3 linked regions of the Homo sapiens genome follow. The protein of the gene in region 1 interacts with the protein of each later gene in a pairwise test. Each region holds a gene or a part of one and is shown in the gene's direction. Other genes may lie near its edges. The genes, in order: FEZ2, ZNF251 and TLK2.

Evidence for each region.
Region 2: the proteins of FEZ2 (region 1) and ZNF251 interact in a two-hybrid assay, tested with the Homo sapiens proteins (one study listed by BioGRID).
Region 3: the proteins of FEZ2 (region 1) and TLK2 interact in a two-hybrid assay, tested with the Homo sapiens proteins (one study listed by BioGRID).

The regions. Positions count from the first base shown.
Region 1 is NC_000002.12:36,552,419-36,560,390, reverse strand, and holds part of FEZ2 (fasciculation and elongation protein zeta-2), read left to right. Parts: intron 1-1,877; coding exon 1,878-1,953; intron 1,954-4,642; coding exon 4,643-4,708; intron 4,709-7,211; coding exon 7,212-7,228; 3' UTR 7,229-7,972. UniProt on the Homo sapiens protein: Involved in axonal outgrowth and fasciculation.
Region 2 is NC_000008.11:144,751,897-144,760,170, reverse strand, and holds the start of ZNF251 (zinc finger protein 251), read left to right. Parts: upstream 1-4,639; 5' UTR 4,640-4,766; intron 4,767-4,794; exon of another isoform or gene 4,795-5,367; 5' UTR 5,368-5,442; coding exon 5,443-5,475; intron 5,476-5,849; coding exon 5,850-5,979; intron 5,980-6,374; coding exon 6,375-6,488; intron 6,489-8,042; coding exon of another isoform or gene 8,043-8,161; exon of another isoform or gene 8,162-8,260; intron 8,261-8,274. UniProt on the Homo sapiens protein: May be involved in transcriptional regulation.
Region 3 is NC_000017.11:62,593,211-62,601,182, forward strand, and holds part of TLK2 (serine/threonine-protein kinase tousled-like 2), read left to right. Parts: intron 1-3,374; coding exon 3,375-3,464; intron 3,465-7,440; coding exon 7,441-7,610; intron 7,611-7,972. UniProt on the Homo sapiens protein: Serine/threonine-protein kinase involved in the process of chromatin assembly and probably also DNA replication, transcription, repair, and chromosome segregation. Phosphorylates the chromatin assembly factors ASF1A and ASF1B.

The DNA.
Region 1 (7,972 bases):
CCAGATGTCGGTATGTTTGAGACTAGAGTTCTAGGTCAAAAATATGTATAGAGTGTATCTTACCTCCTTTAAATGAAATTCATGTGTTTTTAAGGTGTATTGCATAGTCAGCCAACTCAGTTGTCTGCCAAACGAGGCATGCGACATTATTTATACAAAATTATACACAGATATGAATATATAATCAAGTATCTAGCAATTTGCTTTTTATTCACATTTTTGTATAATGATTGAAGGAATATCATGAACATGGGAAACATTCACATTAATGGGTATGCTTAAAATTACCTTTCACTATATGAAATTTTCACCTTGAAAAAGAAAAGTCTTTAAGTTAGCTCTTCTGTGCAGATTAAGAAGGTGTACAAAATGTAGCTTGTAGGAAGTTTAGCAAAAGAACGCCTAGATCAAATGCCTGGAGTTTTTACTGCAGGTAGTTAAGTGTTTCTCCGGAAGGGAGATCATTCCTATTAAAGAGGGAAGCCTCACACTGACATTTGCAGCTCATCAATGAGCTCCATGAAGGGATGTTTGAGTTTTTGTTTTCATTCCGTTGCCTCTCACCTCTCTCAACCTCAAAAGAAGACAAGGAATCTTCCAGACTGTCAGTGGAGCAGGGAGGCCTGAAGATGCAGCCAGGTAGCCAGAGAGCGGGCCAGGGTGCAGCCGCCTGGTGCCTCTCCAGGTTGCCTCACACATGCAGAGTGAAGCCAGGAGGACATCATTTCTGGCCTTTTGTTGTTGTTGTTCTTTACAAAGAAACATTCGATTATACAATTGGGCATCACCTGCAAGAAGTCTACGTCAAAAAGACGGTGGGACACTTAACGTGTCTCAGAGATTGAACTATGCAGTTTTACCACTTTTCTGGACTTAGGGATCCAGTTACTGTAAAGCAGCTTTCTTTATCCTGTTTTTCAGTTATGGGCAGGATAAGATCACTCAGTGAGGATTAGCCACAGAGCTGAGATTTAGGGCACGAGGTTAAATAATGGGTGGAGCTAAGAGATTCCAGGTAAAAACCACTGGCTTTCTATATGAGCATATGTGAAATGCACGGAACTATTTTTTTGGTGGGATGGTAAGAACAGGAAAATCTGGACAATCATTTATGGATTATGCTTTCATGGGATTAGTTAAAAGACATGGCGCTGTTACTTGTGAGCCTTTACAAGTAGTGAACTAGGAAGTTTATCTCAATTTCAGACATTAATTTTCATTATTCATTTCCCCTTAGGCCATTCTCTACTTTAACTTTTCTCCTTTAATGCCTAAAAACGTTTACAATGACTTACCCAATAATTTAAAATAATAGTAACGCATTTCTAAAACGATTTAAGTGTGTCTTTGTTAGCTTCTGAAAGAAGCTAGTGTGTGTTTTTCAAAGTTGTCATGTTATATATGTGGACCATTTGTTCAACCAGAATAAAAATGGTCTGAAACAGAATTATTTTGCTGTTGGAAATTACTTTATTGTGCAGAACTGTTAAAACTATGTTTTTAGTTTAAATTGCTATTTTTAAAATGTGTTGAAAAATATGCAAGTAGAATGTGAGATAATACTTCACTTTAAAAATGAACAAATTGAGTAAACCATCCTCAGACTTAGTCCTATGAAATTTTCAATAACTGAAATGCAAAAAGGTGGTTGTTTCTGTTGACATTAGGTTTGTATGAAGCAAATAGAGGTGGGCAAAAAAAAATGAGCTCCATCTGAGATAGTAAGATAACTTTATTCCCATACAATACCTGTGTTTTCATTACCAAAGTAGCTTGTGTTTTATATTATCAGATAGACCTTCTAGTAACAGTATCAAATTTTTTGCAGATAAGGTAATTCCGATTTAAGTGACACTTTTTTTTTTTAAACTTGGCAGTATTTGACTACAGTCATTCCTTATGAGAAAAAAAACGGACCACCGTCTGTTGAAGATCTTCAAATATTAACAAAAAGTGAGCAAAGACAAAATGAAACTATTACCTGATTTCCTTTTGCTGATTGGTAAACACCTGACTTTAGTTGGCTGATTTTGTTGTTAGTGTTTTGTCAGTTTAGGATGTAAATGATGCATATAATTGTTTATTTTTATAAGAATGAAGCCAAAAATGGCTGTGACATTAAATACAACAGTAACTCTAGTGTTGATTTGTACTTTTTCTGTTTTTCTTACCTTGTGAAATATTTATGAGCTAAAATTTTGGGAAAAAGCATAACCTAAATCTCCATCATCTCTTACATGTTTAAGAACATATCCATTTATCATAAATAAAATTCCTTATGGATCTTATATATCTATGATTGTCAGTAACTGAATAGGAAAGATTTACGGTAAACACTTTTTATTTCTTATGAATGTAGAACCCGAGGTAGTAGTTATAGGTAGAACATAAATTGACAGTGATGTTTTAAGAACATGCATTCATTCAGCAAATATTTAGTGAAGGCCTACTCTGTACCAGGCCATGATCTGGGCACTTGGGATACTTTAGTGAACAAAGCAGACAAAGATAATGCACCTTCAAGGGGCTTGCCTTAAAAAAAAAATTGTTAGATTTAAATATACATGATATTGAGTATCTCTTATGATGGCCGCAAATGAGCCTTGAATTCTGGTTCTATCCCTGTTATTTTCAGGGATATCCTTGGAAGTTACTTACTCTCTTTTGCTTACATTGAAAAACTAGGATAAAAAATATTTGTTCTATTTACCTCACAGTAAATAGATTAATATATGTATGATTTTGGCTAAGTTACTATCAATTAGCCGTTAAAATGGAGGGATTGAATTTGCTGATCTGTTAGGTCTTTGTTATGGTAAATATTTATGATACTTGCTAATTAGGGGGGAACCAAATGAAAGAGCATCACATGGATGAGTATGGATGATGATACTTATTTTGGAAATTTAAGAGGAATGGGCAAGGAAAACCTAAGAGTAGAAGCAAGTGTCTTATTTCTTAGCTCCCTGCCTGCTAACTTGGAGCTTTTATTCTTTCCTTTGGTGAATAATTCTTTAAAAATTTTATATTTAAATATGGATAAATCAAGTGATGCCAGCCAGTCTGAAATAAAAAATCAAGAGATTAACTGGGTAGCTAGCCCTCTTATTTTCAGGAAGAACTTAAGTTATATGTGTCCAAGATCACACAGGGGGATGGTTAGTTACAGAGCTGGATCTCTTAATTCCCAGGCAATTATACTTTTAATGATGCTGGTTTTTGGTATGTGATTTTATTTAGAAGTTAGAAAAAATTTTAAACATGATTGGAAGCAGAAATACTGAACATGGTAGCCCTCTAAAGAAGGGAACATAAATATTGCTCATAAGCCAGGAATTACTGGCAGGCCTCAGCTTCTCAGATCAAGAACAAATACTTCATTGGTCAAACTAAAGTCATCATAATTCCAGCATCGAGATGTCTTTATAGGTTGTCACAGTTTGGAATCTCTGGACATATTTGGGTCCAAAGCTCCTTTTCTTTCCAAAAGAAGAGCCCTGTGGAGACAGTCACAGTGTTTATGGATATATAGTCTTCCTGATAAAAGCTATTAGGGGATTTTGGGTGCAATAATAATAGTTAATAAAAATTTAAATAATTTGAGTAGTGTTAGTTACAGTTAATACATAGCATGTACTATGTGCCAGGCACTATGATATGACCTTTATATCTGAATTAGTAGCTTAGTCCTCATAACAAACCTTTGAGATTAAATCTAATTATTATTCTCATTTCACAGATGAAGAGCTTGGTGCAAAAGTGGTTAAGTAGCTTGCTCAGCGTCACACAATTAGGAAGTGGCAGAGCCAGGGTTTAAACCCAGGAAGGCTGATTTGACAGTTACACTATTTTGCCTTGTCGTATTGGTGGGGAAAAACAGTGAAATATTTTTACCAGGATGCTTTGGAGAAAATTTGAGTTGGCAATCTCTGTTAAAGTATAATATTTGTGAGTTTATCTCAACCTGAATGGTCTAGCTTAAAAAAGAAAAACGTTATACTAGGTGGCTGCTTTTTCTATTTTAGTTTTTACTTAGAAGATAAATTTGTCAAATTAGAATGAGGCTAATTCTCCCAGGTTTCTCCCTAGTGCAGAGGAGGCAACAGCCAGGCAGATGCCCGATGCTGCTTCATGGAAGTCTGTTCTTCATTTGGGTCTTTTCTTTGAAAGTTTCTAAGGAGTCTGACAGGATACGCTTGTTGGAGGGTATAGCTGTCCATTTCTTTAAGAGTTTCTCTAGTTTGCTTGATCTGCAGCACTGAGGTTTTCTTGCTGCACAGAGTTCATTGAGGTGCACATTATAGTAACCCACTTTCCGGTATTATTACAGAGCGAAGGCTCCTTGTAAATAACCCAGTTCCTCTTTTTTTGTCTCCACTGTTTGGAAATTTTAAATCAGGGAAGCAACTCTCAGGTAAGTGGGATATTCTTACCGAAAATAAATTCTTGTGGACTTACTCCACTAAAATAAATTATTGGGCCTTTATTGTTGTATCCCCTTATCAGGAAAATCACCTATAATTTGTATGAGTCAGTTATATCCTATAATTAAGGAAGATTAAGGCCACAATGATTGAAATTAAATAATATTTTTGATCTAAATTTTTAATTGTTGTCTTTTTTCCCCTCTTCTATTTTGCAGTTCTTCGTGCCATGAAGGAGGACAGTGAAAAAGTTCCGAGCTTGTTAACTGATTATATTCTGAAAGGTGAGTTTTATAATGGTATAGGTGCGATGGCTGGGAGGTTTGGATTAGTCAGTAAATACATCGCCTTGCTAATACATTAGACAGTAACTTCCCAATGCACAACTTTCATTAATCTTATTATGCAGGGTGAGGATTAGCTACATGACTGACTTCTACCAACATTATATATCATGGTTTTATATAATTTAAGTTTTATTGGAGGTTCTGGGTTGGAAATAATCTCCACAGTTAAACTATAAACATCAAGAGAGGTAGTAGAAGAAAATTAGTGAGATGGCACCATAATCATGTGGGTATCAGATGTTGGCAGATTGGCACTGGGAAATTTGAGAAGGGTGGTCTCTGTCATCTTGAGGACAGTGGAAAGGAGGACAGATCATTAGTGAGGACGGATGAAGGAAGGAAGAGTCACATCTGTGAACAGTGCCAAAGGGAATACGAAAGGGACTGATGTAAGACACAGGGAGGGAAGCGGGGAAATAAAAAGAATGGACTTGCATAAACCCAGGAAAGTGAAAAAGCAGCCACAAATCTTAGAGGCAAGGTGAGGCTCACACAGGGTGGGAATATTGATGAGGCAAAAGAAGAGTGAGAGGTTGAGTTGCTTTGCCGAGAAAAGAGCAAAGTTTGGATGATAAAGAAGGGACGGAAGAACTTAATTAGAGGCAAAATTAATACTTTACGATGAAATATTTTTTTAAAGTAGCAGGTATTCAGGGACCAGATTTTGAAAGCATCACAAAATGCATCTTTGTAGTGTTTGATCAAATTTTGAGAGCAATCCTCTTCTAGTAACAGTCTTCTTCTCTGGGTTCTCTCTCTTCTCCATTAAAGTTAGCTGAGCACAAGGAAGATGAAGATTTCTGAGACATTAGAAACCTCTGATGGTCTTTTCTTAAACCATAGTGTCATGAAAGGGGAACCTCAGTAGTATACACAGGGTGCTCAAAGTGAATCACACATTTCACTTGTAAGAGTCTTGATGCGGTGAGAGTAAGAAGCATGAGCTAGACACTAGTGGGTTGACACTGGAGTAGAACAGACTGAGTTGACATCATTTTAAAAAATAAGCTTTTTTTCTGATGGAGGACTTTTTCTCCCTATAAAATTCTGAAAAATTTTTTTTTTAATACCTGACATCTTTGTTTGCTTTTGTGTTGTGCTAGCATTGGTATGAAAGCTGGATTGTTCTGAGGTTCGTTCTTCTAGATGTGAAACAGGAATGAGACGAACATAAAGAACATGTCTTAAATTTTAATTATATCGGGTTCCTAGGCCTCTATGAGGGCCAGAGATAGAATGAGCTTCTGAAGCATTCTCTAGCTATTTTAGCATTTAACTGCATGGAAGGATGTTATGACCCAAAGAACAGAGTCCTCTGGGGAAAAATGATTTTTAATTCTTTACTCTGAAAACCTAGGACTATAATTGTGAACCTACCTATACCGCATGCCTTAGGGAAGCAGCACCCATCTAATTCTGCTCCTCATGCTCGGGCCGCTGGCTCCTGTCTGTAAGCCCAGTTCTATCTATACTGTACCTGCTTCTGATGAGCTGTCTGTGTGCATGTGTTGTGGTTTTGTCTTGGCTTTGTATTGTGAGGACTGGGTGGAAAAGCAGCAAGGATTTAGACTACAGTGGAGACTGTAGTCAGAGAAAATGAAGACGGGAGTGCAATGTGGAGATGTATTTACCCAAATGTGTGTGGGAAGGTGGGGAAGTCGGGTCATTGAAAATGCTCTTTTCCACCCATCCTGAAAGTTCACAGCTGGTTAACTGTTCCTCTTCCTTGGGGACCAATAATACGACACTTTGCCCGGGAGGGGGATATTGCTCAAGGGGAGAATACTCCTTCCCCTTTTTTGGGTGGTTTGTTGTTGTTTTAACACAGATGAGAGTGTGGCTTGGCTGCCTAAATACACCACTTAGTTTTAATGCAAATGTCAGAAGTGAAAGAAGGTAGAAAAGTGGTCTCATTTGGCCTGAGAAAAGGGAGTAGGGTGGGCACTGTATGGGCTAATTGAGCTTCTCTTTCTCGCACCTGCCTAATGACCCCACTGCAGCCTGCCGCCACTGCTGCCTTGACAGTAGTACCCAAGGCTGATTCTGAAGTAATGTACGCGTGGCTGCTGCCGTGCTGCTAGTTAGGAATAAAAATGTGTGCAGAAACTTGCACCCTTCTTTGACTTCCCTAGGGATCCTGTTTGTTGTGTCACAAGCCTCATGGTATAGGGCGAATGTTAGGGGCTTCTATCTCCAAGTGGCACCCTAAGAGACATGGCCTTTTGGTATCTCATTTCTGGGAAATTCTAATGTGTGTTGAGAGAACTCATCCTTGTTGGGTATAGCCTCTTAAAACCTTTAAAAAATTGCTACATAGATCTTTGCATTAACATTTAGTTCTCATTACTTAATGGTTTTTAAATGTACATGTAAAATGTATGTTTTGTGTAAATGTATACAAAATATACATTTGTAGCTAAAAGTTCTCTTTTTCTTCTAGTTCTGTGTCCTACATAGAGCAGCAACTTTATCTGCGGTGGGCTCCAAGCTAGATTTCCGACAGCATTATTCTGAGAGCTGGCTACCATTACCCTTCTTGCTATTGGAAACTCAGCACATTTGAACTTGGGTTTGATTCAGTATTAACAGATCTTGACTACACTAATTCTTTATATTATAGAACCAACGGAAATATGGGCACTATTTTGAATTCTAGAGATGGTTTTTGTTAAATCTACTAATAAACTGTTCTCTTAGTAGATTAAGAGAGAGTAATATTAATTGTGCATGTGCAGTTGTATTTCTCATTAACTGACAGTATGCCCATTTGTTTTTATGGCTTTCTTATCTAAACTGCACTGATGAACTAGATTAAAGCCTTGGGAGATTTATACTATAAATTCAGTGATGGCAAGAACCAACACTGTTTTTTTGTGAGAATTGTCAGTGTAACTATTACCTACCAGTATTGTTCAGAGAGATTGAAACAGAATAAACGGGCTGTTCTTGAAGAAGCAAAACCAGAATATGCATTACTTTGGTTTAATACTTAGTGCTAACATTGAAACTGTTGGTGGTGATGGATTTTGTAGCTTGCTGCTTGTTTCACCACTGGTCAAATTTTAACCATTAAATTGCCATTCACTTTTAGAATCTTGTATTTAAGTTTTGATTTTCAAATGTTCTGCTTCATGTGTCTGTGAAGAATTGTACTTTAAGTGTGTGTCCTCTGAGGTGCTTGAGAAAGTGTACACTGCAGAA
Region 2 (8,274 bases), on another chromosome or scaffold:
GGTCAGAGCTTAAGGTTATCTCTTATTCCCTGAACAATTGCTGTTATCCTGTTCTTTTTTCAAGGTGCCCACATTTCATATTGCTCAAACACACATGCTCTACAATTTGTGCAGTTAATGCAATTATTACAGGGTCCTGAGGCGACATACATCTTCCTCAGCTGACAGGATTAAGAGATTAAAGTAAAGACAGGCATAGGAAATCGCAAGGGTACTGATTGGGGAAGTGATAAGTGTCCATGAAATGTTTACAATTTATGTTTAGAGATTGCAGTAAAGACAGGCATAAGAAATTATAAAAGTATTAATTTGGGGAACTAATAAATGTCCATAAAATCTTCACAATCCACGTTCTTCTGCCATGGCTTCCGCCGGTCCCTCCGTTTGGGGTCCCTGACTTCCCGCAACAAGGTAGCTCCCGCCCCTCCAGCTTCTTTGTCCTTCCAATCTTCCTGGGATCAGACGGAATGCACTGGGGTCTGCTCTTTGCCATGGCAGAGGCCTCTACATATGACTGGGAGGGTCAGTTTCTCATGACAGTTAGCAGGCGCTTGTGGCTGCAGATGCAAAATCATGGTCCCTAATCGGCTTTATTATTATTTTATTTATTTTATTTTTAGAAATGGGTTCTCACTATGTTGGCCAGGCTGCCTGAATTCTGGTGTTTTTGTACGTGGAAACTGGTGATGCAAGTACTGAATGTACCTCAGGCAGCTGGAGGAAGATACAGACGGATTGCCATCCGTCCCCCAGGTTAAGGATTCCCAATGAAGTCACTCTCTTCCCACCACTCCTCCTGAGAGGGTACGGTGGAAGGAAGGGTCTGAATTTTCCTCCCCAGAATTTCCCAAGACACAGGTATATTTGTCATGAATGTGAGGAGTGAGAACAAGGGCCTGCCCCGGCCCCCAGTCTGATTGCCCTCTCCGGCACTGCTTGCCGTGGGTGTTAGGCCCGCTTAAATTTTTGTTGTTGTTGTTGTGGTTGTTCTTCATGGAGTCTCGCTCTGTCGCCCAGGCTGGAGTGCAATGGTATGATCTCGGCTCACTGCAACCTCCACCTCCCAGGTTCAAGCGATTCTCCTGCCTCAGCCTCCCGAGTAGCTGGGATTACAAGCGTGCACCACCACACCCGGCTAATTTTTTGTAGTTTTAGTAGAGATGGAGTTTCACCACGTTGGCCAGGCTAGTCTCAAACTCCTGACCTCAGTTGATCCGCTCACCTCGGCCTCCCAAAGTGCTGGGATTATAGGCGCGAGCCACCGTGCCCAGCCAATGGGTAAATATGCTGAGTATGTATTTCTAAAGGTTTGAACACAGAAGAAAGGTCTGAGATGGAATTTTTTTAAGTGGGGTAATTTACATGTAAGTAGCAGTTGAAGAAATGAGACAAGGTAAGCTCTCTTAGAGGAAAATGTAGAATAAAGTAAGGAGAATGCGCAGGGCAGACACTGAGTAGAGGAGAAAGTAGCAAAGGAGATTGAGAGTGGTTGGCAGAAAATGAAGGAAGGGTGGTATTATTGATGATAAGGAAATCAAGTGTTCCAAGAAGGACAGACAGTTCATGGTGTCAAATATTGCTGAGAGGTCAAGTAAAGGAAAACTAAAAAATGCCCACTGGTGGCCAGGCACTATGGCTCACACCTGTAATCCCAGCACTTTGGGAGGCCAAAGCAGGTGGATTACTTGAGGTCAGGAGTTTGAGACCAGCCTGGGCAACAGAGCAAGACCCTGTCTCTACCAAAAAAATACAAAAAATTAGCCCGATGTGGTGGCACGCATCTGTGATCCCAACTACTCATAAGGCTGAGGTGGGAGGATTGCTTGAGCCCGGGGAGGTGAAGGTTGCAGTGAGCTGAGATTGTGCTACTGCACTCCAGCCTGGGTAACAGAGAGAGACCTTGTCTCAAAGGAAAAAAAAAGCCCACTGGTTTTAGAAACAGGGAGGTCAGTGGAGTAGGGAACAGCTCTGTTCTGGGCCCTGAGGACCTTGGACATCTTCACATAGCTGTGTGGCAAGGTCCATCACCGTGTGAACTGAGTTTGGCAGAATGCTTGGAGGTTCCTCCTGAAACTAAGGGAGACAAGCAACCTTGTAAGAAACGACAGTGACAGCAGCGCCCCTGGGCCCCTGGTTGGCTGCGTCTGGGATGCTCCCTTTGCCCCTCCTTGGGGTACAGCTGCGGACACACCACTGCCTGGCTGCAGTGTGGAGCTGGCGCCTCAGCAGCACCGTGGCCACCATCTGTGCTTTCTGTCATCTGGCCCCTATGGTTTGCTGTCATCTTGTGTGTCTAGGGACACAGGCTGCTGATCATGCTGTAGCTGTTTGAGTAAGAAATAAACAATCTAGGCTGGGCACAGTGGCACACACCTGTAATCCTAGCACTTTGGGAGGCCGACGCAGGTGGATCACTTGAGGTCAGGAGTTTGCCACCAGCCTGACTAATATGGTGAAACCCCGTCTCTACGAAATACAAAAAAATTAGCTGGACATGGTCCTGCATGCCTGTAATCCGAGCTACTTGTGAAGCTGAGACAGGAGAATCACTTGTACCTGGGAGGTGGAGGTTGCAGTGAGCCAAGATCTCACCATTGCGCTCCAGCGTGGGCAACAAGAGTAAAACTCCACCTCAAAAAAAAGAAAGAAAGAAACAATCTCTATCTTTTGTGCTCATTGCTGATCAAATCCATGTAAATATGGCAAACCAGCCTAGCATCTGTGGCAGTTGACGCCGGTAACCCTGTCAGCTGCTGGATTGCTGCCTAGGGACTGCTTGGATGCTTGGCAGTTGGTAGCCCTGTAAATAGGAAATATCCATTAGGAGAGCCTGCAGCCACCAGTCACAGAGTGATTACACGCCCCCTGTAGGAGATGTGAAAAAGAAAAAGAGGAAATCAAATATTCTGCAATCTTACAACTAGTAATGATGTATTTATTTTCAGCTTTTTATATACGTTTTTCAAGCACTTCCCAAGTATTTATAGAGTACTTACTATGTTCCAGGCTGGTGGCTGAGCAGTGAACAAACCAACCTAGGTCCTTATATCTGGAAACCTTAAGTTTGTGAACTTAAACACCCATATATACAATTGAGATCATATCATAAATATAATTTTGTATTCTATTTTTCACATTCTATTTCATAAGCATTACCCTCTGCCAATACTTTTTTTTCAAATACCACACATAATGGCTGCATAATGTTCAACTGAGTGTACAGAAGACAATAGATTTATCTATTTCTGTGCTGCAAAAAGCATAATTATCTTCCATTTCCCCTTCTATGAATAACTAGCTATTTTCCAAATTCTCCCCATTATTTAAAAAAAACCACACACACAACAAACTCTGGAATGGGCACCCTTCTCTTTGTCATTTTTGTTATTTCCATAGGATAGATTCCTAGATTAATTGAAGTGTTTAAGGCTCTTTATGTACAGCTTAATTCATTTTCAACATTGTACTAAACACGCTTCCTCAAGCATAGCAGTGCGTAATTCTCCACAATCTCCCCAGCACTGATATTAATAATGTAAGGCATCTTCTTAATCATGTGTGACTTTGCATGGTGCTTTAGACTTCTAGACATTCTCCATCCTCGTTGATCGTCTCAAGTTCAGATATAAAATTTCTGCCTTGATTCTAACACAGTGTACAGGGCCTACACTATATTCTGGGTGACAAGATGGCTTGGCTTTCCTTTCCTTCTCCCCCTGCTCCTAAGCTGGTCTCCTCACCTTTATCAAGTGCTATTTTTTCAACCATGCTTTATTGTGTAGGGGCCAAAGGGAAAGTTCCTCTTTGCCCTCTGAAGGTTCACTGAAAGCCAACTCATAAAAGGCAGATTTTTGGAGAAAAGGCAAATAAATGGATTATTTATTTATTTATTATTTATTTTTGAGATGGAGTCTCGCTCTGTCACCCAGGCTGGAGTGCAGTGGCGCGATCTCGGCTCACTGCAACCTCCGCCTCCCGGGTTCAAGCGATTCTCCCGCCTCAGCCTCCGGAGTAGCTGGGACTACAGACGCCCGCCACCACGCCCGGCCTTTACCGCCAGTTTTCACACAGAAAAGCGGGGGGAACATCAGAGTCGTGTTTTTAGGTTTTGTGGCTGGCTTTGGGGGTCTGGCCTCTGGGACTCGCCTTGGGTAAAAGGGATTCACTCTGTGAGGAGCCTCGCGGGAGAAAAGAACTGAGACTGGAGGCCTGGGAAGGTCAGAGGGAAACTGCCTCCCAGGCCTTCATTTTGGGGCGTTGTGTTCTGAGCCCCGATAATTGTAACATCTTCATAAGCGACTTTCTGGTGGTTATGGTGAATCGGGACACACGATGTATGGTGACCGACGGGGGAGCCGGGAGCCCAGCGGGGTTAGGGTTCAGGTGAGGGTTTAGGGTCGGGGCGAGCGCGGCGCGGCCCGGATGCGCAGCGTCACCGCGCCAGACCCTCCGCTCAGCTGCCGTGGGCTCTCCCCCTCCCCGACCATAGACGGCGCAGGCCTCCAGTCATCCCAGAGCGGCCCCGGAAGAATCCGGGCGGAACCGCGGCTGGCTTCCGGTTCCCGGCGTTCTCGGAGGCGTACTGAGGCCCCGCAGGGGGCGGGGAAGCCTGCGTGTGCGCAGCTCGGCCCGGCCCGCCCTCTTCATCCTAGCCCGCCCCCTCCCCGGCTCTGGACCCGGTTCTGTGGGAGGGTCCGTTCCGGGCTCGGTGCGACTGCGCAGCTCCTCGGCGCTTCCTCGGTGGCTTCCCCGGGTCGAGCAAACAGGTGGGGCAGTGTCGGACCAGGAAGGAGCGCCAAGCGGGCAGGCAGGCGGGGAGGGCGCGGGGAGGGCGCGGGGAGGCGGCGGCCAGTCCAGGAGGAGCCTGTTCTGGGTGCCGCGGGAGCCACCGACGGGCTGCAGAGGCCGGGAGGAGGCGACCGCGGCGCGGCCCTAGAAGGCTGGACTGAGGACCACAGCTGGCTTCCGGCCTCTCCCCGGAGCCTGGGGCCTTCGGCAGCATCCCCGCGGCCTCCTTCTCACGTCCTCAGCCTTGGTGAGGCTGCACCCTCACGTGGCTCTTTGCCCCAGGTTGGCCAGGCAGGTAGAACGGCCCTGCACCCCATTTCCAGGGCCTTCAGCAGGTCTGGACCACGGGAACTGCCAGCTTTCACCCCTTAGCCGGGCGTCCCTGGATCCCCCCGGGCTCTGGCTCTGGCCGTTCTGGGATTTCAGGAGTCACTGAGCAGTAGGGCACGTCGGCCCGTGCTGCATAGTGACCTGCCTCCCGCGACCCAGGAGGCCACAGCAGCAATCAGCTTCTGCCTCCTGGCCATCCTTCCACACCCCTGGTTGAATGGGGCTGAGCCTGAGTTCTCCCCACTGAAGGTAAGTTCGGGGAGACTTCAGGCCAGGGCAGTCTCCTGTCTTCTCTTGGAAACCACAGCAGCCCATGCACACAGAATGGCAGCCACATTCCAGCTTCCAGGGCACCAGGTGAGTTAACCCTCCTTCCTGCCCACCTCTTCATCTTCATCCCCATCCCAGTCAGAAGCTACTCTCCTCTGGAGCCGTGAGCCCGGCAACTGGTAAGGCCAGCCAGGGGCTCATAGCAACCGTGAGGAAAGGGTTCTGAGAGGTAGACTCGCCCTCCTGCAGGGAGAGGGGCTCTGAGCTCAGCTGGGTCCCCGTGTAGCTGAAGTTGGCTGGTCCTCAGCGCTCTCAGCTGCCCCATCAGGGACCTGCTGATACACAGTTCATACTGACCACAGCAGGGCCCTGGGTAGTGGGGCCCCACCAGGTCAGGGCCCTTTTAGTGCAGGCTGCTGCCCCGTGGGCATGGCCTGGGCAGCGGCGATGTTTTGTTGCAGGAGATGCCGCTGACCTTCCAGGATGTGGCCGTGTACTTCTCTCAGGCGGAGGGGCGGCAGCTGGGCCCCCAGCAGCGGGCGCTCTACCGGGATGTGATGCTGGAGAACTATGGGAACGTGGCCTCTCTGGGTGAGGCTCTCTGCACTTGGCCTGGTTCGCAGTGGGGGCCTCTGAGGAGCTTGGGAGGCTGCTTTGGCTCTTTGGATCCCAAAGAAGAGGGTCCTGCCCCTTGTCCCCGGGTATCAGTCTGATCTCTACAGAAGGAACATTTCCCATGGGAAAAGCCTGCCTTGCTCCCCAGTTCTAGGGACTTCACTCCCTGTTGCCAGTGGCCCCACTGGTGTCCCTCCAGTGGCAGGAGAGCTGATGAGTGGATTCTCCTTCAGTACTTAGTCTCAGCCCACGGGCCCCCTGACCAACACACGTGCAGGCGTACACACGTGCACACAGGGCCCATCTCTCCACACCTGGCCTGGAAGGCCCAGTGGGCCATGCCAGCTCACCAGTGTCCTCATCCTCAACAGGATTCCCTGTCCCTAAGCCGGAGTTGATCTCCCAGCTGGAGCAGGGGAAGGAACTTTGGGTCCTGAATCTTCTGGGAGCTGAGGAACCAGATATCTTGAAAAGCTGCCAGAAAGGTGAGAATGGATGGGATGCTAATCCTGGGAGCAGCCTCCCAATCCTGCCTTAAGAGGCTCCAAGCGAGGGACAGCTGGGGCATGGCGTTCATATTAATGGCCTCCCCCAGGGGCAGTCTCACAGATACAGCCCCTCTACAAATGTGAGCATGTGCACATGCTTTAGAAGTTTTATCTTGCTGGTCTGTTTCTTTGCTTTAAAAATATATATATACTACTTCTGATCATATTTTTGTTTTGGTGATTTACCTTGATAACAACTTCATTCCCTTCTTTATAATACACTTATTTCCTTTTGACAATAGATATCGGTACCCTACCATGTCCTTTTTATTCTTCACTCCATTCTCTCCTTCATTTGCCAAGTTTAGTCAGTAGTAGTCTTTTTTTTTTTTTTTTTTTTTTTTTCGAGACAGAATCTCACTCTGTCACCAGGCTGGAGTGCAGTGGCACGATCTCGGCTCACTGCAACCTCCACGTACCAGGCTCAGGCAATCCTCCCACCTCAGCTTTCCAAGTAGCTAGGACTACAGGCACATGTCACCATACCTGGCTAGTTTTTTTTTTATTTTTGTTGAGACAAGGTTTCACCACGTTGCCCAAACTGGTCTTAAATTCTTGAGATCAAGTGATCCATGTCGACCTCCCAAAGTGCTGAGATTACAAGCATGAGCCACTGCACCTGACCAGTGGCTTTTTTTAATGTTTACCTTTGTTCTATTGAATATACATCTACTACTTGATATGTCAGCTGTAAGTATTATCTTTGACTGCCAGCTACTGAGACAGTCAACAAGCTTGTTCTACTTTTCTCCCTTTTCCTCCTCATTCCTTTCCCAGTTTTTGTTGGTTATATTGTTTCTACACTGTCAGAACATATAACACTTTACAACTCATATCCGCAGCTTTGTTACTGGCTTATATCTCCAGTTAAGTATGTTATTAATAATTGTTTATCTCTGGTCCTTTTACCAAAAATTTCCCCATCTCTTGGTTGGCTGGAGCTTGTCTTCTAGTTTATTCAGAAAGGCTCGTGAAAAATATACCCCATATTTGTGCACATTCAAAATTGGTTGAATAAAGCATTTGGTTTCTACATGTAAGAGCTAAGATTGTAAAATTATATCGTTTTCTCAAAGTGCAGCTTAAGTTGCATCTCACAAAATTTTAATATGTTGTATTTTCATTAACATTTAGTTCAAAATGTTATCTAGTTTTTCTTGTGACTTCTTCTTTGACCCAATGATTATTTGGACATGCATTAATTTCCAGATAGTTGGTGTTTTCCTAGTTATCTTATTGTTATTGTCATTTAATTCCACTGTGGTCAGAGAACATACTCTGTATTATTTCATTCCTTTCATATTTGTTGCTTCTTGTTTTATGACCCCAAATGTGGTCTCTCCCAGTACAAATACCACGTGCACTGAAAAAGAATGTGTATTCTGCCATTTGGGGGTTAGATAAATATCAGTTAAGTCAAGGTGGTTGATGGTATTGTTCAGGTCTTCTGTATCCTTGCTGATTTTTTTTTTTTTTTTTTTTTTGGTCTAGTTATTCTTTCAGTTGCTGAGAGAGGGGTGTTAAAATACAGAAGTATGATTGTGGAATTGTCTTTTCTTCACTTTAATTTTTGTAGTGTTGGCTTCATGTATCTTGAAGCTGTATTATAAGACTTACTTCACTTATGACTATCATTATGAGAGATAAGAGAATTCCTGTTTGTCTCTGGTAATACATTTTGTTTTGAAATATATTTTATCTAATATTAATGTAGCAATTCCAT
Region 3 (7,972 bases), on another chromosome or scaffold:
ATGGTACACCCGTACCATTAATAGAATTTGCAAAACTGGAAGTTGTTCTGGGTGAGTCAGAGTCTAGGATACTGTTGTACACTACTGTAGACTTTATAAACACTGTACACAGAGGCTACACTACATTTATTAAAAATTTTTTCTTCAAGTATAAATTAACCTTCACTTACTGTAACATTTTTGCTGTAGAAACTGCCTTTTTTTAACCTTTTTGACTCTCATAATAACACTTAGCTTAAAAAAATCACATTGTACGGTTGTATGAAAATATTTTCTTTCCTTGTATCCTTATTCTATAAGCTTTTTTCTATTACAATTTTTTTTTATTTTTAAACATTTTTTGTTAAGAACTAAGGCACACAACTCATTAGCCTAGGCTTGCACAGGGTCAGGACCATCAATATCACTTTCTTCCATCTCCATCTTGTCCCACTGGAAGCTCTTCAGGGCCAATAACATGCATGAAGCTTTCACCCCCATGATAACAATGCCTTTTCCTGGGATACCCTCCGAAGGACCCGCCTGAGGCTGTTTTGTAGTTAATTTTTTTTTTTTAATAAGTAGAAGTGGTACACTCTAAATTTTTTTTTTTTTTTTTTTGAGATGGAGTCTCACTCTGTCGCCCAGGCTGGAGTGCAGTGGTGTTATCTCAGCTTACTTCAACCTCTGCCTCCTGGGTTCAAGCGTCTCTCCTGCCCCAGCCTCCCAAATAGCTGGGATTACAGGTGCACACCACCGCTCCCTGCTGCTTTTTGTATATTTAGTAGAGACGCAGTTTCTCCATGGTGGCCAGGCTGGCCTCAAACTCCTGACCTCAAGTGATCCGCCTGCCTCAGCCTCCCAAAGTGCTGGGATTACAGCCGTTAGCCACCGCCCCTGCTCTCTAAAATTTAAATAATTAAAAAGTACAGTGCAGGCCAGGTGCCGTGGCTCATGCCTGTAATCCCAGCACTTTGGGAGGCCATGGCAGGCGGATCACTTGAAGTCAGGAGTTCAAGATCAACCTGGCCAACATGGCAAAACCCCCTCTCTACTAAAAATACAAAAATTAGCTGGGCGTGCTGGGATGTGCCTGTAATCCCAGCTAGTTGGGAGGCTGAGGCAGGAGAATCGCTTGAACCTGGAAGGCAAAGACCACAGTGAGCTGTGATCGCGCCACTGCACTCCAGCCTTGGCAACAGAGCGAGACTCCATCTCAAAAACAAAAAAAGTGCAGTACATAAGCCCTCACTTAGTAGCAGTGATAGGTTCTTGGAAACTACAACTTTAAGGGAAACAAGGTGTAACAAAACCAATTTTACCATAGGCTAATTGACATAAACAAGAGTTAAGTTCCTGTGGCATATTCCTGGTCACAAAAACATTACCCAGCTTCTAAATAAAGACTAAAACACTTCTAATACTAAACGTTGAAATGTATATGAGCTTTATATACATTTAAGAAAGTTTAATAGAAACAAGGTAACATTTACCCACTCATTCCCCACTCAGGGTTGAGGGTGGCCAGAGCCTATATCAGCAGCTCAGGGGCAAGGTGGGAGCCACCCTAGACAGGATGCCATCCCATTGCAGGGCGGGTACACACACACACACACACACACACACACACACACACACACACCCCATGTGGGTATGCCGGTGAACCCAACACATGTGCCTTTGGGATGTGGGAGGAAAGCAGAATAACCTGAGAAAACCCACACAGATAGGGGAAGAACAAACAGACTCCACATGGACAGTGGTGCCGACCAGGAATTGATTTTTTTTTTGAGACGGAGTCTAACTTTATCACCCAGGCTAGAGTGCCATGGCGCAGTCTCGCCTCACTGCAACCTCCACCTCCCAGGTTCAAGTGATTCTCCTGCTTCAGCCTCTTGAGTAGTGGGGATTACAGGTGGCCACCACCACGGCCAGCTAATTTTTGTATTTTTAGTAGAGACGGGGTTTCACCATGTTGGGTCAGGCTGGTCTCGAACTCCTGACCTCAGGTGATCCAGCGACCTCAGGTGATCCACCCGCCTTGGCCTCCCAAAGTCCTGGGATTACAGGCATGAGCTGCCGTGCCTGGCCCCCTTTTTTTTTTTTTTTTTTTTTAAATCAGCGTTATAACAAAATGATGTTATTTAAGGGCCTGCTGTATAGTAAATACATAAACCAATAATGTATTCATTTATTATCATTATCAAGTGTTATATACTGTAGATAATTGTTAGGTGCTAGACTTTAATATGGCTGGCAGCACAGTAGGTTTGTTTACACCAGCATCACCACAAGCGCGAGTAATGCATTGTGTGGTGACATCATGACTGCTGGGTTACCAGGTGATAGGAATTTTTCACCTCTGTTGTACTTTTTTTTTTTTTTTCTTCCTCAGTTCATGGGAAGCTCTGTTATACTCTTATGGGACCCCGTCATATGTGTGGCTTAGCATCATTGACCGAAGGGTTGTTCTGCAGTGGATGACTGTATCAAATTCGCCATTCTAAGAAAACTGGGGTTCCATAATTTCACATTTCATATTTTATTAGAATAAAGTAAAGCTAATAGCACTTAAATTGTTTTTGTAAGAAGGATTTAAAAACAAAAAATACAAAGTACTGCTAATTGATTTATGTAACAGATAATGCTTTAACCTAAGGGGTTTACATGCTAAAAATGACCCCTTTGATGTTACCCGAGCATATATACATTTACAGATATGATGTATCAGCTTTAGAGGAGGGGGGAAAATAACCGTCCTTGTTATTTTAAAATCTATGATACTTGAGTATACGTGGAAAAGAGGTGTGATTATCATAGAATGAACTTGAAAGGGATGAAAAGGGTTGACATCCATTCACTTAACAAATATTTGAGCACCTGTTATTTTATTTTATTTTATTTTTGGAGATAGAGTCTCGCTCTGTCACCAGGCTGGAGTGCAGTGGCGCGACCTCAGCTCACTGCATCCTCCAACTCCTGGGTTCAAGTGACTCCTACCTCAGCCTCCCGAGTAGCTGGGACCACAGGTGCGCACCACTACGCCCAGCTAAGTTTTATATTTTTAGTAGAGACGGGGTTTCACCATGTTGGCCAGGATGGTCTCCATCTCTTGACCTCGTGATCCACCTGCCTCGGCCTCCCAAAGTGCTGGGATTACAGGCGTGAGCCACTACGCCCAGCCAGAGCACCTATTATTTTCTCAATGGCTTGGTAGATTCCAGTGGAGAAAATAGGATGAGCAAAGAGAAAAGTCAGATGAGGGACCAGATGGACCTGAATGGAATTAACATGTGGAGACAATAGAGAAATGATTGAATATTTAGGAGGATCTTTGAAGAGTTCTAAAAGGCAGGCCAATATACCTTCTTGTTAATTTTCCCTTTTGTTTACAGGCATGCATGTAGGGAATACCGGATTCATAAAGAGCTGGATCATCCCAGAATAGTTAAGCTGTATGATTACTTTTCACTGGATACTGACTCGTAAGTGCTGTGCTGTTTTACCTTAACAGTTATATTATTTTCTTGCAATGCTGATTGTTCATGGAATAGAGCTGAACTCTGGGTCCAGGACATACCCTCTGAGGGAACCAAGTAATTTGTGACAAATGATCAAACATAAATTCAGATTTGGATCAGCAAGAAACCTCTAGGCCAAAGGACATGTGCACTTGTGTGCCAGTAAATGTTTAACAGCCAGCTTGGTATGAAGAGAGACAGGGCTAATTTATAGTGTTTGCCAGTTTCCGTGGTGTAGATATTCCTCCTGTGTCTAATTTTGATGTACCACCTGTTTATTTTTGTTTTTTTTTAAACATCTTAATTATAATTCACATACTGTATGATTCACACATGTAAAATATACAGTTTAGTGGTTTGTAGCATATTCATAGATACATGCAACCACCAGAGGCAATTTTAGAATTTTTTCACCATCTCAAACCCCATCATACCTTTTACTACTATTCATCTATTCCACCATTCCATCCCTCTGCCCTAGCCCTAATCTGTCTGTTTTATCTTTATAGATTTCCTATTCTGGACCCTCATATGCATGGAATCATATAGTATGTGGACTTTTATTACTGGCTTCTTTCACTTACCATGGTGTTGTCAAATTTCATCCTTGTAGCCTGTGTCAGTACTTCATTCCTTTTTATGGCAAAATAATATTCCATTGTGTGGATATACCACATTTTGCTTATAACGGTTTGATAACCAGCTCACAAAATTCTTGAAAATTTAAGTCAGCTCTTGGAAACTGGCATGAGTTGGTGCCAGCATGCCACTGACGTGCACTAGTGAGTGTAGACTGTTCAAGAGAGTTTCTGCTCACCCCAGAGACTCTTATGAACATTGACAGACCTTTTTAAAAAGTACTGGCCGTGTGATTTTATCCTAGACTGAGATAAGAAATGTGGCACTAATGAAGACAAGGCTCAGTGCTACATGTTGAAATACAGGCTCATAGGCTTATAGGATGTTAGAATAGGAAGGGATCTCAGAGTCCAGCCTTTTCATTTTATAGGTGGATTTTGAGGACCAGAGAAGTTAAATAACTTGTCTGAGATAGTTATTAATTGTGGGCATTGCTATATTTTGTTACTTGGTATAGGTAACCTCCCGTGCCTCTGGGTTTATCCAGCAGTTTAGCTGGATATATCTCAGCATTTGGAAATGTTTCTCTGTAGAAGTCTGAACTGAATCAGAATATACCCTAGGTCTAGACTTCAGGTTCCCTCAGCCTCCCAGGGTAATTCTAGGAGTTTTGGTCTGTTCTAGCCAACAGTCTCAGATATGGCTGTGCAGACAGCTGCCTTACATTTAGAAATAACCCCAAAGAGGACTATAATTCCCTTTGGAAACATGACCTGGGCCATTCTCTCAGGGATTTCTTCTCATTTGGGTAGCCCTGGCACTGAGCTTAGCCATGTGTGTTTCACGTGGAGTGGAATTTTTTTAAAAAGATCTAGTTAGAAGGCAGGATTGGGAAACAAGGGGCGGGGCATGACATTACTGTTTTGCCTTGAGCAAATTTCTTGAATACTAGGTAGACCCCCCTCTCTGAACTATTAAGTTCAAGAACTATTTCAAAGTTAAATATCAGGCTCAAATTATCTGCTGTTTTGAATTGTATACACACTTTTAACTAATGTGAGAAATTGAGTTGGTTCTATACTATTCTTGAGTTGATTACTTTGTTCTTCCTATTGTATGTATGATGAATTTTCACCAAAAATAAGTCAGACCATGATTTTTAGAACATCTTCTGAGAATTGTTTGGGTATTAAAAGTGAGGCTTTATTTTCTTTTCTTTCTTTTGTTTTGGTTGTTTTCCTTTTTTTTTTCCTGAGATGGAGTCTCACTCTGTTGCCCAGGCTGGAGTTCAGTGGTGCGATCTTGGCTCACTGCAACCTCCACCTCCCAGGTTCAAGCGATTCTCCTACCTCAGCCTCCCATGTAGCTAGGATTACAGATGCACGCCACCATGCCTGGCTAATTTTTGTATTTTTAGTAGAGACAGGGTTTCACCGTGCTGGGCAGGCTGGTCTTGAACTCTTGACCTTGTGATCCGCCCGCCTGGGCCTCCCAAAGTCCTGGGATTACAGGCTTGAGCCACCGCGCCTGGCTGAAAGTGAGGCTTTATTTTCAACTTGCATTTGGGTGAAAGAATCATTCCATTGAGCATGAGTCTATATTTCAGATTTCAGAATCTCAGATCAGAGGAATCTATAAATTTCAGACATTTCTTTTTTTAATTTTATTTTATTTGAGATGGAGTCTTGCTCTGTTGCCCAGGCAGTAGTGCAGTGGCATGATCTTGGCTCACTGCAACCTCCACCTCATGGGTTCAAGCAATTCTCCTGCCTCAGCCTCCCAAGTAGCTGGGATTACAGGCATGCGCCACCATACCTGGCCAATTTTTTGTATTTTTAGTAGAGACAGAGTTTCACTATGTTGGCCAGGCTGGTCTCAAACTCCTGGCCTCAAGTGATCCACCCATCTCTGCCTCCCAAATTGCTGGGATTACAGCAGACATTTGTTTTCAAATAGGGTGTTAGCATGCCCTGCCATGTTTCTTAAGATACATAAGATATTGTTCAGTTTGTGGTGTCCACAGGACCATGTGTGTCCATGTTCAATTGCAGTGCTTTATGAAGGCCTCAAATTGCTCAGTGGCCCATAGCGCTAGACCTGAGTCTGTTTGCTCTCAGTTCTGTTCCTCGCCCTTTCGCTGCTCTGTATCTTTGGGGGGTTAGCCCGTGTAGGCTGTGTTTATCAGGCCCATGTGTCCATTGGTGTTCTGTTGGTTTCAGCCAATGGGAAGGCAGAAATGGGAGGGGGTCTCCACCTCCTCTCCCTCCCCGCAATTCTAGTTTCCCCTGATGACCCTGGGTTCTGGTTTCACCATCTCCTCCCTTCTGGCCTGCTTGCCTGAGGGTGCTAATGGCTTCCTGCTGTAGATGATCTCTAGGGTGCCTCACTGACCAGTTTGTCTTCTCAGCTCTTCCATCATCTGTATGATCAGTTCCCTGAATTAAAGTCTCTCTGTTTTAAATGTTCAGGTGGTTTTTTTTTCCAGGCTAAACTGACTGATACACCCACATTGTCACAACTTAGAAAACTTCAAAACGTATTCATCCCTCAGGAATATTCAAACAGTTCAGGACACCTTACTTCAGAGTATAATGCCTTGGAAGATAGACACGTGACCTGTGATGCCACCAATGGCATATGGTTTTATGTATGGGTCTGTATGACATATTGACATAAGGGAAGGAAAGAGAACCCACATACTTTTGTTAGAACCATAGATACTATACTTTACAAGCTCTTTTACACCTTGTGTTTAAGAGAAATTGTAGTGCAGTATTGTGCCAAGCTGTCAGAAGACGTAGTATGCAGTCAGTTTTTGGGACGTGGGCAAACTCTAGATTCTTACTCATTGCCAGCACTCAGGGTTATATAAAATGTTTGCAGTGCGAATTGTGTACCTAGCCAAAATTGCGCCACTGCACTCCAGCCTAGGCAGCAGAGTGAGACGGAGTCTCAAAAAAAAAAAGAGAGAATTGTGTACTTGATCACATTCTGGTTGTTTAGACGTGGATGTGTGGCATGGGTGTGTAAAGGAGCCCCTTCCAAGAAGATACCTAGCTTAAATACATTATAGTTCTTATCAGTATTCTTATAGTCTAGACTCAAGAAGAGGTCTGCCATGGGTGAACTTGAGCACAACAGATTCCAACATTGAGGGTGTGGAAACTCTTCAAGAGAATAAGCAGTTTCTTACCAGAAACCCCTCAGCTAATACTGAATAAACAATTGAAGAGTATTTTAAGGAACAAAGAAGAAAGGAGTGAGAAGCTGATGACCTGAAGTTTTCACATGGGACTAATTTAGGTAGTGTTAATCTGCTTGCTCTTATTCCATGGTTAAATATTGGTTTATTTGTCTTTAGGTTTTGTACAGTATTAGAATACTGTGAGGGAAATGATCTGGACTTCTACCTGAAACAGCACAAATTAATGTCGGAGAAAGAGGCCCGGTCCATTATCATGCAGATTGTGAATGCTTTAAAGTACTTAAATGAAATAAAACCTCCCATCATACACTATGACCTCAAACCAGGTATGTCTAACTTTTAGGAGACAGTATTAGTGGGTTTTCTTTGGTCTTATAAGTGACTTTTAATTTGATAAAGTTAGAGAATTTCACAGCAGCCAAGAAAGGCTAATAACATCTGACTTTTGATTGCCTGGGTAGGTGTGGGAAAAAAGAGTCCTGGCCAAGCAGCACTGGGTTTAGGAGGGCGTGTTGGATTAAATACTCTGGAGAAACAATACCTTTATCTTTGGAGCCAGGGCAGTTCATGATGTAAGTCTCATTAAGAAAGAACTGTTGCAGCAAGTTCAGTTTTGTTTTTTTCCCATGACTCCTACTACATAACAGTCCCTCTGCTTCAGGTCTCTTTGATAAGAGCCCCCAAATTA